3 linked regions of the Homo sapiens genome follow. The protein of the gene in region 2 purifies or fractionates together with the protein of the main gene of each other region. This does not show direct contact. Each region holds a gene or a part of one and is shown on either strand. Other genes may lie near its edges. The genes, in order: PSME4, PSMA4 and GARS1.

What was found.
Region 1: the proteins of PSMA4 (region 2) and PSME4 purify together in Homo sapiens (affinity purification with mass spectrometry; 4 studies listed by BioGRID and IntAct, with this or other methods). This does not show direct contact.
Region 3: the proteins of PSMA4 (region 2) and GARS1 purify together in Homo sapiens (affinity purification with mass spectrometry; 2 studies listed by BioGRID, with this or other methods). This does not show direct contact.

The regions. Positions count from the first base shown.
Region 1 is NC_000002.12:53,964,349-53,968,097, reverse strand, and holds part of PSME4 (proteasome activator complex subunit 4), read left to right. Parts: intron 1-3,749. UniProt on the Homo sapiens protein: Associated component of the proteasome that specifically recognizes acetylated histones and promotes ATP- and ubiquitin-independent degradation of core histones during spermatogenesis and DNA damage response.
Region 2 is NC_000015.10:78,538,696-78,542,444, forward strand, and holds the start of PSMA4 (proteasome subunit alpha type-4), read left to right. Parts: upstream 1-1,748; 5' UTR 1,749-1,844; intron 1,845-2,090; exon of another isoform or gene 2,091-2,140; intron 2,141-3,209; 5' UTR 3,210-3,232; coding exon 3,233-3,235; intron 3,236-3,481; coding exon 3,482-3,524; intron 3,525-3,749. UniProt on the Homo sapiens protein: Component of the 20S core proteasome complex involved in the proteolytic degradation of most intracellular proteins. This complex plays numerous essential roles within the cell by associating with different regulatory particles.
Region 3 is NC_000007.14:30,593,186-30,596,934, reverse strand, and holds the start of GARS1 (glycine--tRNA ligase isoform 1 precursor), read right to left. Parts: upstream 2,058-3,749; 5' UTR 2,014-2,057; coding exon 1,792-2,013; intron 1-1,791. UniProt on the Homo sapiens protein: Catalyzes the ATP-dependent ligation of glycine to the 3'-end of its cognate tRNA, via the formation of an aminoacyl-adenylate intermediate (Gly-AMP).

The sequences.
Region 1 (3,749 bases), on a different chromosome or scaffold from region 2:
TTTCACCATGTTGGTCAGGCTGGTCTTGAACTCCTGACCTCAAGCAATCTGCCCACCTCGGCCTCCCAAGGTGCTGGGATTACATGTGTGAGCCACCGCACCCGGCCTGGACTAAATTCTTGAGAAGCATTTCTACTCTGGTATTCTGCAGTTTTATTTTTTTAATCCTGTCAAGCTTCACATCAGTCATTGTGTGTATCTTTCTACAAGAACTGTTTGAATAATTTGTAAAATACTGGAAACAGTTGCATAGATCAAGTACATTCCTAAAGACCAAAGTGTAAATGCAGTTGAGAGTTAGTGGGACTATCTTGCTGATCAGAAATGTGCACCCGTAATCTGGACATCAGAGGTGTGTTTGGGACCAAGTTCTGGTTTGGAAGGTTCTCAGGCTTTACATTTGGTCCCTCTTTTTGACTTTTTTTTTTTTTTTTTTTTTTTTTTTTTTGAGACAATCTCACTCTGTTGCCCAGACACAAGATAGTGTAGTGGCACTATCGTGGCTCACTGCAACCTCCACCTCCACCTCCCTGGTTCAAACGATTCTCCTGCCTCAGCCTCCTGAGTAGCTGGGATTACAGTTGTGCGCTGCCACGCCTGGCTAATTTTTGTATTTTTAGTAGAGACGGGGTTTCACCATTTTGGCAAGGCTGGTCTCGAACCCAGGTGATCTGTGTGCCTCGGCCTCCCAAAGTGCGGGATTACAGGCTGAGCCACCGCCCCAGCCTTCTTTTTGACTTTTTTCTTCATTTTTAGTAGTTCAGTCCATTTAGAAACTTGCAGGTCTGTTTAACATCTCTGAAGAAAGGTTATTTCTATATTTTTAAATACTTGGCCATGTGATAGAGGCTTTCCTGTACAGACAATTTAAAGTACTAGAACTGTCTGGTCAAGAGAGGTTGTGTGATGTAACACATCACAAGGGAAATTTTTAATAAGGGAAGAAACAAATCAGAGAAGTTGAAACAAATTAGAGAAAGTAGGAACAAATTAATGGTCTTTGGACAATGGCAGACAGCTCATGGACACTGTGAGTGAAATATTGGTAGATAACTTGTATGGCCCATGTAGAGAATGAAGGGAGTTGAAGAAAGGTATTCTTAAAACTTGATTTTGTTATGCCTGTAATCCCAGCACTTTGGGAGGCCGAGGCAGACGGATCACGAGGTCAGGAGTTCGAGACCAGCCTGACCAACATGGTGAAACCCCATCTCTACTAAAATTAAGAAAATTAGCCTGGCATGGTGGTGCACGCCTTTAATCCCAGCTACTCAGGAGGCTGAGGCAGGAGAATCGCTTGAATCTGGGAGGTGGAGGTTGCAGTGAGCCAAGCGCCACTCCAGCCTCGGCAAAAGAGCGAGACTCCATCTTAAAAACAACAACAAAGAAAAAAACCCCAAAAAACTTGATTTTGCCCTCTTGCCTTTCTGGACCTTTCATGAGGGGCTGCGGGTGCTCGTTAGAACACCTCAGGTTATCTGTACGTGAGGTGTATCTGGCCTTGCCTCCAACATTATTATCTTTTTTTTTTTTTGGAGACAGAGTAGCTGGGATTATAGGCATGTGCCACGACGCCTGGCTAATTTTTTTGTATTTTTAGTAGAGACAGGGTTTCCCCATGTTGGCCAGGCCAGTCTCAAACTCTTGATCTCAAATGATCTGGCCACCCCGGCCTCCCAAAGTGTTCGGATTATGGGCGTGAGCCACCGTGGCCTGCCTAACATTATTATCCTGGCAAGATTTTAGATTATTAGTGGTTTTTCAAACTTTAAATTAAGTAGTGGAGTGTTTTATTTTTTATTTTTATATTTTTTGAGACAGAGTCTCGCTCTGTCATCCAGGCTGGAGTGCAGTGGCACAATGTCGGCTCACTGCAGCCTCTGCCTCCCAGGTTCAAGCAACCCTCATGTCTCTGCCTCCAAGTAGCTGGGATTACAGGTGAGTACCACCACACTTGACCAATATTTGTATTTTTATTAGAGAGGGGGTTTTGCCATGTTGCCCAGGCTGTCTCAAACTCCTGGCCCCAAATGATCCGCCCAAGATCTCGGCCTCCCAAGGTGCTGGGATTACAGGCGTGAGTCACCATGTAGTGCCAGTAGTGGAGTGTTAAAAAACCAAATTTTGGCTGGGCGTGGCGGCTCACGCCTGTAATCCCAGTACTTTGGGAGGCTGAAGCAGGTGGATCACAAGGTCAGGAGTTCGAGACCAGCCTCACCAACATGGTGAAACCCCGTCTCTGCTGAAAATACAAAAAAAAGTTAGCCGGGCATGATGGCGGGTGCCTGTAGTCCCAGCTACTCGGGGGGCTGAGGCAGAAGAATTGCTTGAACCCGGAAGGCAGAGGCTGGCTGCAGTGAGCTGCGATTGCACCATTGCACTCCAGCCTGGGCGACAGAGCGAGACTCTGACTCAAAAAAAAAAAAACAAAAAAACACACAACCAAAATTTTAAACTTGAAATTGGATTCCTCAGGCAAATTAAAACCCCACTCATTAAAAAAAAAAATACTTCCTTGATAGTAGAACTCTTGAAACCTCCTCAGGGCTCCACAACATACTGCTGGAAAAATCACTTGGATGCGCTGGGTGTGGCGGCTCACGCCTGTAATCCCTGCACTTTGGGAGGCTGAGATTACTTGAGGTCAGGAGTTCCTTGGCCAACATGGTGAAACCCTGTCTCTACTAAAAATACAAAATTTAGGCTGGTATGGTGGCACTCGCCTATAGACTGAGGCAGAAGAATCGCTTGAACCTGGGAGGCAGAGGCTACAGTGAGCCGAGATGGCGCCACTGCACTCCAGGCTAGGCGACAGAGGGAGACTCTTGTCTTACAAAAAAAAAAAAAAAAATCACTTGGCCTTTCTAGTTCTTTGTTCCTTTTAAACTGGTAAACTGGTCTGGAGGAAAGGGCGGGAAAAGGATGGAGAATAAGCGAATGGATTACTGTTTCCTACAACTTATCCCATCCATGATTCGTGTGTGTGTGTGTGTGTCTGTGTGTGTGTGTGTTTAAACAGAATTTTGATTTTAGTGAAGTATGTGGGTTTGGTGTAAGATGAAGCAAATTTAGATTCCCTGTTTGCTACAGTGACATGTTTTGTATTGTTTTATGATTAAGTGACTATATTATAATGTGAAGTCATTTTAATTGCTAATTAAAACTGTGGCACCCTTTAGAATTGAAAGTACAGTTGTTTTATTATTACAAATATTATGCAGCCTTCGTGGATTGATTATCCCAGTTGAAACCACATAATGTATTTGATTAGATTATGTAACCACCAGAAACTTAGGTGTAGTCAAGGTATGAGTTATCAAATACACAAACCTTCTCTTGTGGAAAGTAATAAGTGGCCACAGGAGCACCCACATTCATATCATCCCCGTGTTGGGAAAGAAAGGAAATGCTAACTGCTGAATCTGCATTGTCTGGTATGAGGCACCTAAGAGTATCTAATGTTTGAGTATTGAAATTGAAGTACACAATAAATGCAAGTGGTTTTATTTGTAAATGAATCTTGAAATCTTGACAAGTTACCAAACTCATCAGTGAGAACCAGTTAGAGAGAGTGATAGAAGAGGTTTTACTTTGTTGTTAAGTGATCATTCAAAATGGGAACCAAAATTTCTTTGTAGTGAGAAAGTTGATTTTCCATAAGGGGAAAAAAAAGGAACTGATTTTGGAGAACATGAATTTCTTTGATAAAGTTGTATAATGTAATAGCACAATAAGACATATTTCATATT
Region 2 (3,749 bases):
CTAAAACATCACTTTAATCCTGTCTTCCCATTACTGACCAAAACAAATTCTGGCATTAAAGGCACTCTACACTTAGGCCTCAAATGCCTTTCCTTACTTCCTGTATTATCTCCTCCATTCAGATCAGACCGAACTACTCAGTCACCCACACTTGTCAGACTCATTCTTCTCTTGCCCTTTTTCTCAAGGAATCCCTCTCTTGACCTGAGAAATTCTACCTCTCACTTAAAAGTGACTGTTCACTGAATTCCGCAGAATGAACTAAGGTGGCAGGCAGGGGCCCTCAGAGATGCCATAAGTTACACCACCTGAGGATGCTTTCAGAGCACCACCTGCGTGTGGCTCTTTGCCATCTTGCCTTGGCTCACTTCCCTGTGTGCTTGGAAAGTAGAGACGATAGGCGAGACCTCAAAATGTAACTTACTTCCAAGCTATCTCCTTTTCAAAGCCCAGATCCCCCAATAATTTTGCAACCAACATGAAGAGGAGTTTCTGCCCAGTGGGCTGCTTTTTGGGAGAGACTGTGAGCAGATGACTTCATATTAACCCAGATCTAGTCAACCTTCTAGCCTGAAAAAACCTAAAATGCATAGTAGATAGTTTACATACGGACCGAGGCTGAATGAGCAAAAAGGTGGAGAGATGGATAATGAACACAGAAACAAGTATGACAATTTCAGTAAAGAAGATAAAATGGTGCGAGTATATGCTGACGGTAGGGTATTGCTTTAACTGTGCTGGTCAGGGAAATCCTTTCTGACTGGTGAAAAGCAGAGAAAGAGACCAAGGTGAAAATTCCCCCAAAAGTGTGAACCTGATCATAATTTTTTTTAATTTAATTTTTAGAGCCAGTGTCTTTCTCTGTCACCCAGGCTGGAGTGCAGTGGTGCGATCATAGCTCACTGCAGCCTCCAAACTCCTAGCCTCAAGCCATCCTCCTGCCTCAGCCTCCCAAAGCGGTGTAATTACAAGCATGAGTCACCATGCTCGACCCTCATCATAATTTTTTTTTTTTTGAGATGGAGTCTCAGGCTGGAGTGAAGTGGCGCACTCTCGGCTCACTGCAACCTCCGCCTCCCGAGTTCAAGCGATTCTCGTGCCTCAGCCTCCCAAGTAGCTGGGATTACAGGCGTGCACCACACACCCGGCTAATTTTTGTTAATTTTAGTAGAGACGGTTTCACCATGTTGGCCAAGCTGGTCTCGAACTCCCGACCTCAGGTGATCCACCCGCCTCGACCTCCCAAGGTGCTGGGATTACAGGCATGAGCCACCCGGCCTTCCTCATCATAATGTGTATGTCCAAAATGTATGCATCAGCAGTAAAAGTGAAAGCCAGAATGAAAAAGGAAGGTGATGAGAGGGGTAAAGTCTCATGTGGTTGGAACCATTTTGGGAAACAGGACAGGAATGATAGCAATTAAGAAGCCGGTCCACACTATTTGCTATCCTAGGTCTGAATAGTGAAGAGAAAATGAAAGGAGAGCGCCAAGGGTAAGAGAAAGAAATTAGCTATTCCACCTCCTGGTTGGCTACTGTCTTCCTGCCCTCTTCCCCATGGCACAGCAACTCCTCCACCTGCTGAGGACCCTAGCCTAAGCTGCAGCGCCCCAGAGCCTCAGCACCCCCGCGACCCAGCTCCCACGAGGGGCACGGGTTCTAGCTCCGCCCCGCAAGAAGGACTTCCGCGTCCTCGGCCGTCCCGCTCCCCCCGCCCCAACCCAGCGGTTCTGCGCATGCGCGGGGGCCATATTAGCAGCGGTTATTCGGTGAGCGGTGGTGGTTTATTCTTCCGTGGAGTTAAGGGCTCCGTGGACATCTCAGGTCTTCAGGGTCTTCCATCTGGTGAGCCTTTGGCCCCTTGGGGCCCGCGGAAGCTTGGCCGCTTTCCCATTGGGCGGGGGTCGTGAACGTCAAGACAGTCGGTCCCGGCCTGCAGTTGCCGCCGAGGAGCCGTGGGCACGATGACTCTGCACCGCCTCCTCTGTGACGGACCGACCGCCGGGAATGGCCCCCGCCGGCCGCCGTCGGGGGCTTCCCAGTGCCAAGCCTGGACGCCGGGGCCCGCGAGGGGGCGGGCTGAGGGTGGGGGTCTGTGGGCAGGACCGAGAGTTGGGGTGGCTTCCGTCCTCAGGAGTTCGGTACGTGAAAGTTAGCTCTCCCGGAGGTGCCGGTGAACTCAAAATAGTGCTGTGCCCGGCGTCAGGCGTGGAGACAACAGAAAGTTGTGCTTAAAGCTCGAATCAGAAATCCCCGGCGAGTGTCTCTGTGTCCTCCCTGCTTCTCTGCTCTGTGCCATCCTTACTTTGCACCATTCCTATTGCAATTACCTCAACCAGTTCGCTGCCCTCGGTCTCTCACCAGCCAGAGTGATCATTTAAAATGCCAATCAGTTCCTGTGGGCCTTGGGAATCATTCAGAGGAGCCCCATTGGCTGAGAGATAAAATTCTGTTTTTACCTGGGCACGCGGGCTCTCCAGGATTTGATTCCAGCTTACCTTTCCAGTCTTGATTCCCTATATTCCAGTATTTGGAAATGTGGGCCTTGGACTGAGGCTTTACCAAATAACGCTGAACACCTAGTATTGCCTTTTGCACGAATGGTACTGATGGTGCCCAAGATAACTGCCTCCACCCCCAAGTTCAGGACCCAGATCACTCTCTGGAGAAGGCCTCAGCCTCTTGCCTTGGCTTTCAAGGCTCTGCGTGATTTGGATACTCGCTTAGCTCTTATTTATATATATTTTAAAAGCATCAGCAGTTTATCTCATGCCCACTAAACTATCCTGCCTCCGTACCCTTTGTTCATACTTTCTGCTCTGTGTGGAATGCCCTTCTTTCTTCCCCTGTTCTTTCTCTTAGACCCAAGGGTTCTCAGCCTTATTTCTGCCTCTCCCATCTCTGATTTACTTTCATTTTCTGTATCGATTTCTCAAAAAATACTTTCTTGATTCTTTCATCATCCCTTTTCCCACCCTACCCCCGGTTCCTCTTTCCACATTATAATCTATGACTGCCTCTCTCACCTAACTGCCAGTATTAGCTTTTCAGGACAGGAACTGGTTTTACACATTTTGGTATTCCAGCATCTAGCATAATGCCTGACACTTAGCTGAATAAAGGGAGTAAATAAAACAGATTTGTAAAGTCAGCAAATGCTTTTTAATTTGTGAATCTTATTTTAATGATGATCTGATTTTCTTTTTACAGGAACTATATAAAGTTCAGAAAACATGGTGAGTTAATACACATGCCAATAAACGGTTGCCTGATAAACAGTATTGCTTGTACTCAGTTTACAGACTTGAGTGGGAAAATTGAAATAGAAGGAAAGCAGTGAGAAGGTGCCTTTTTTCTTGTCAGTTTCCTCTCACCTATTGAACTTTGTATACCAGGATAGGTTTTGTAAGATCATTTGTAGGCTTGCAGGAGTTGGCCTACTTTCAGTGGGTAGGAATCACTCATGTGTTTTTCCTTTGCAGTCTCGAAGATATGACTCCAGGACCACTATATTTTCTCCAGAAGGTAAAATAGAAATTGTTTAATCTGCCTCAAGTTTAAAAATAAATGTGTTAGACTTTTAGAAAAAAAAATTACAAACTTTTTTTGGTAGTTGCAAAGTTCATCCTTTTTGTACTTTGAAGCAATTATCATCACCAGGTTGATTATACCATAGAAGAGTGAAAGTGGAAATTTGTTTCTAGCTTGCTTCATTGCTGATTTCTTTTGGGCCAGTGGTGCAGGAGCACA
Region 3 (3,749 bases), on a different chromosome or scaffold from region 2:
AAAAATCCCACTCCGGAAAGGTTTTCAATTGCACTTCACAATGGAGTTATCCAAAATGGATAGGGGTGACAGTGTGTCTCATTTCCCCATATACAAAAAATGGGTAAAATTAGATCATCTTTAAATTATTTTTCAGCTGACATAGGACTCAGTAATTCACACAATTAACTAACTGATATATGTGTGTTCTTGGAAAATTAGAAAAAAATATCCAAACTAACTTAAATCAACTAACTCGTATATTCGGAAAATATCTTAAAGTACAAAACAATAATCAAGACAACATAAACAATACACAAGACAGTAGTTAGTAGCATCGGAAAGCTGCCGCGATCAAAGTTTACTTTAGTTAACTAGATCCTGTCTTAACTACCGATGGATGATTTTCACTGCAGTTCCAGGCTAACGTGGCAGAGGGAGGGGTTTGGGTGTGGTGGTTTTTTTTTTTCTCCAAATTAGTTGTATGCTTCCTTCTAAAGGGAAGGATATTTTTTAAAATGGCAAGTTAAGAAAAGACAAAGGAACCACACCTAATTTTATTTGTGGAGTGGAAGGTGGGTGGAGGGAGACAGAATATGCAATCGGTGTTCTGACACCAATCATGAAGAAAAAAGTTAAGCCCGTGGTGATATTTCAAAATGAAAGGCTATTTATTAAAATCGGTCAGGCTCAAACCAGCGAAGAGGACAGATGGCAAAGTGGCTGAATTTGCGGCAGCTATGCCCCAATGAATTATTTCCGAGATAGGGTTCCACCCTCTGTAGCTAAGGCAAATTATTGCATCAGGCGCCCATGCAGGAGAAACCCGTTTGGTGTTTACTACTAAGTCATGATCTCCGGGGTCCTACTGCAAGCTCTGGCTCTCCCTAATTGCATATGGGAATCATCTGAAATAATCTTTTCCTTGATATCTCTAAATTCTAAACTCTATGGCAGTGCCCTAGGAAAAGGAGGTCTATATTAAATCACCAAGTCCTTCAGCCCATGAAACCTTCCCTCACCTTCGGGAAAATCAAATGTCAAAATATTCCATACTAAGGATGGCTGACTTCACTCCGCAACACTTAGTTTCCCAGGTTTACGATCTGAGGGCTCACTGGTTCCAAACGGCCTTTTCAGAAGCCAGAAAAGATGACAAGAGCAAAGGATGATGAGTTCACAGCATTAATAGAAAAGTTCGACACCTCCCCACATCCACATTTCAATTCTATTTTCTCAGCCAATCATTCCGCTAAACTAAGCACTGAATGAAGGAAGATGTTAAGGGGGAAACACTATCAAAGCATCCTAAAGATTAAAGGGCCTGGCCGTAAGACGAAAGAACCGGCAGTTTTTCGGCTCATCATTGACCACTGAAAGAATTAGGAGGCTTTCCACCCAGGGTGCACAAAGAGTACAGCAGAGCCTGGAAAACTGAAGTTAAGGTTATTCAGTTAGGAGGCGAGGACAACCAAAGGGTCACAGATCCCAGCCCCACTGGAAATAGAGGAGACGCGGGCTGTGACAGAATGGGGAAGGGAGAACGGAGCCGGAGAGGGACGCAGGAAGTCGGAGGGGTTCCAGGGAGTCATCCAAAAAGAGAGGAGGACGGAGGTCCGCGGGAGAGGAGGTGGCTGACGCACGGGGGACTTGGGACCAAAGTGGGGGAGGCGAAGAAGACGCCAGAGGATGAAGGGAAAGAAAGGGGTAACCGAAGAGGAGGACAGTTCCCCGGGGAGGAGGGAAGGATGACCAGAAGAAGGCCCTGGGAGGAGAGCCGGAGGCTTAGCGGAGAGCGCAAAACACCGGTACCTGCTGGCGCACTGCTAGCCTCAGAGGTGCCAGCACCTCCTCAGCCCCCGCGCCGTCCATGCTGCTCCGGGAGGCGGCGGCGGGCAAGGAGATCGGGGGGCAGGAGGCCGCGCTGAGGGACCGGCGGAGCAGGAGCGAGGGTCGGGCTAAGAGCCGGGGCGGCAGCAGCAGCAGCAGAGCGGCGCGAGCACCTCTAAGCAGCACTGGACGCGGAGAGGGCATGAGCCTGCGGCCCTGGGCTGTCCAGAGAGGGTGGCGACGGAAGCGGCGCGCGCCGCCCGGCTCGGAGCATGATGAAATCGCCGCGTAAACGACGCGGCGCGCGTGCTGCCGCACATTCACCACCGCGTGACGCGGCGCCGGGTCGCCGCCGCAGATTCGACACAAAACCCGGAAGGACCCCGCCGAAGGTTTTCTCCGGTTCGGGAGAGAGGTAGGTAGGGTTGCGAGCGAACAGATTTGCACAGAAGTGCGTCAAGCCACCCCAGCAGGGTGGATGTTCAGGGACACAGCTCTGAGCGAGACCTGCAGGCCGAGACACACGAGAACCTTCAAAGCATAGGTTTTTATACGAGTGACACCCCGGCCGACCTACTTGAACGGACACTTCTGTTTCTGTTCTTTCGCGCCCTGCGCCTTAAAAGGGTCGCAAAACATCAAATCAGATAGGGATCTTAGACTTCTGTTGCTCAAGTGCAGATGTTCCCCAGATAAGGAAATAGGCCCAGAGAGGTTAATGATTTGCCCAGAGTCACACATTCTTGGTCCGCCGATGTCAAGACAAAAGCTGGCGAACGGGGGAGGAGGAGTGAGGGGATAGAGTCACCCCAGGCTTTCTGGAGAAGGTAAATTCCAATCTGCCCTTGCGGGGCGAGCAGGATTTGAACCGGCAGAGATGAGGAAAGGCAAGAGGTGCCTGATAAGTCTTTCTGCTTGGCATAGCCTCAGTCTATCTGCCTCCTGTGGTTAGGCCCCAGCTGACCAACCACCCAGAGATGGCTTCCCCCCGCCCCACACACCCAGTTCCTCCTGCCCAAAGGGTGGAGGGCCTAGAAAAGCTGGGTTCCCCCTCCAGGAAAGGAAGAGAAAAATGATGTGTTGGTTATAAAAACAGCATTGCGCACACCTGCAAAAATGGCTAAAATGAAAATGATGGAAAATGCCAAGTGACCCTCTGAGACTCCCCTACACTGCTCAGGGGAGTGTTAACTGGTGCAGCCAGCCACTTGGGAGCTCTTCGGCAGTATGCACGTACGTCTCCCTGTGACCCACAATCCCACCCCAGGAGTGTGCAGGAGTAGACGGGCTCAGTATAATGAAGTCTCCTTTCCTAATGGTGTGAAAGTCCATGTTATTTCTCTTCCCGTTCCAGTGTGCAGTTCTGGAGAAGTACTTACAATTCAACATGAGCAGGGTGGGTTGCTTAAGAACCTTCTGCAATATTGAACAATTATATTTTTAAACACTTTTATTTCAAGATTTGATATTAATTATAATTTATTTGGCTTTTATTTTACTAGGCAATTTTGAATTTATTTTAATATCTTTAAATGTGAAAAATCATTTTAAGTTTTACTTTTATTTTTATTTAGATTTTTATTAAAATGTTGAAATTCTATATCCTTTGAATAAAACTATTTTATTTCTAAAAAATTCCTTAGATCAATAATGTCTCATCCATTTTCATGTTAGGACAGTCCTGAAAGGACTCCAAATCCGTTCTTCCCTCCTCCCCGACCAATTCATCCTCCCCACTGCTGCTTCAGTCATTCTTTCTTTCTTTTTTCTTTTTCTTTTTTTTTCCAGACGGAGTCTCGCTCTTTCACCCAGGCTGGAGTGCAGTGGCGTGATCTTGGCTCACTGCAACCTCCGCCTCCCGGGTTCAGGCGATTCTCCTGCCTCAGCCTCCTGAGTAGCTGGGATTACAGGCGTGCGCCACCACACCCAGCTAATTTTTT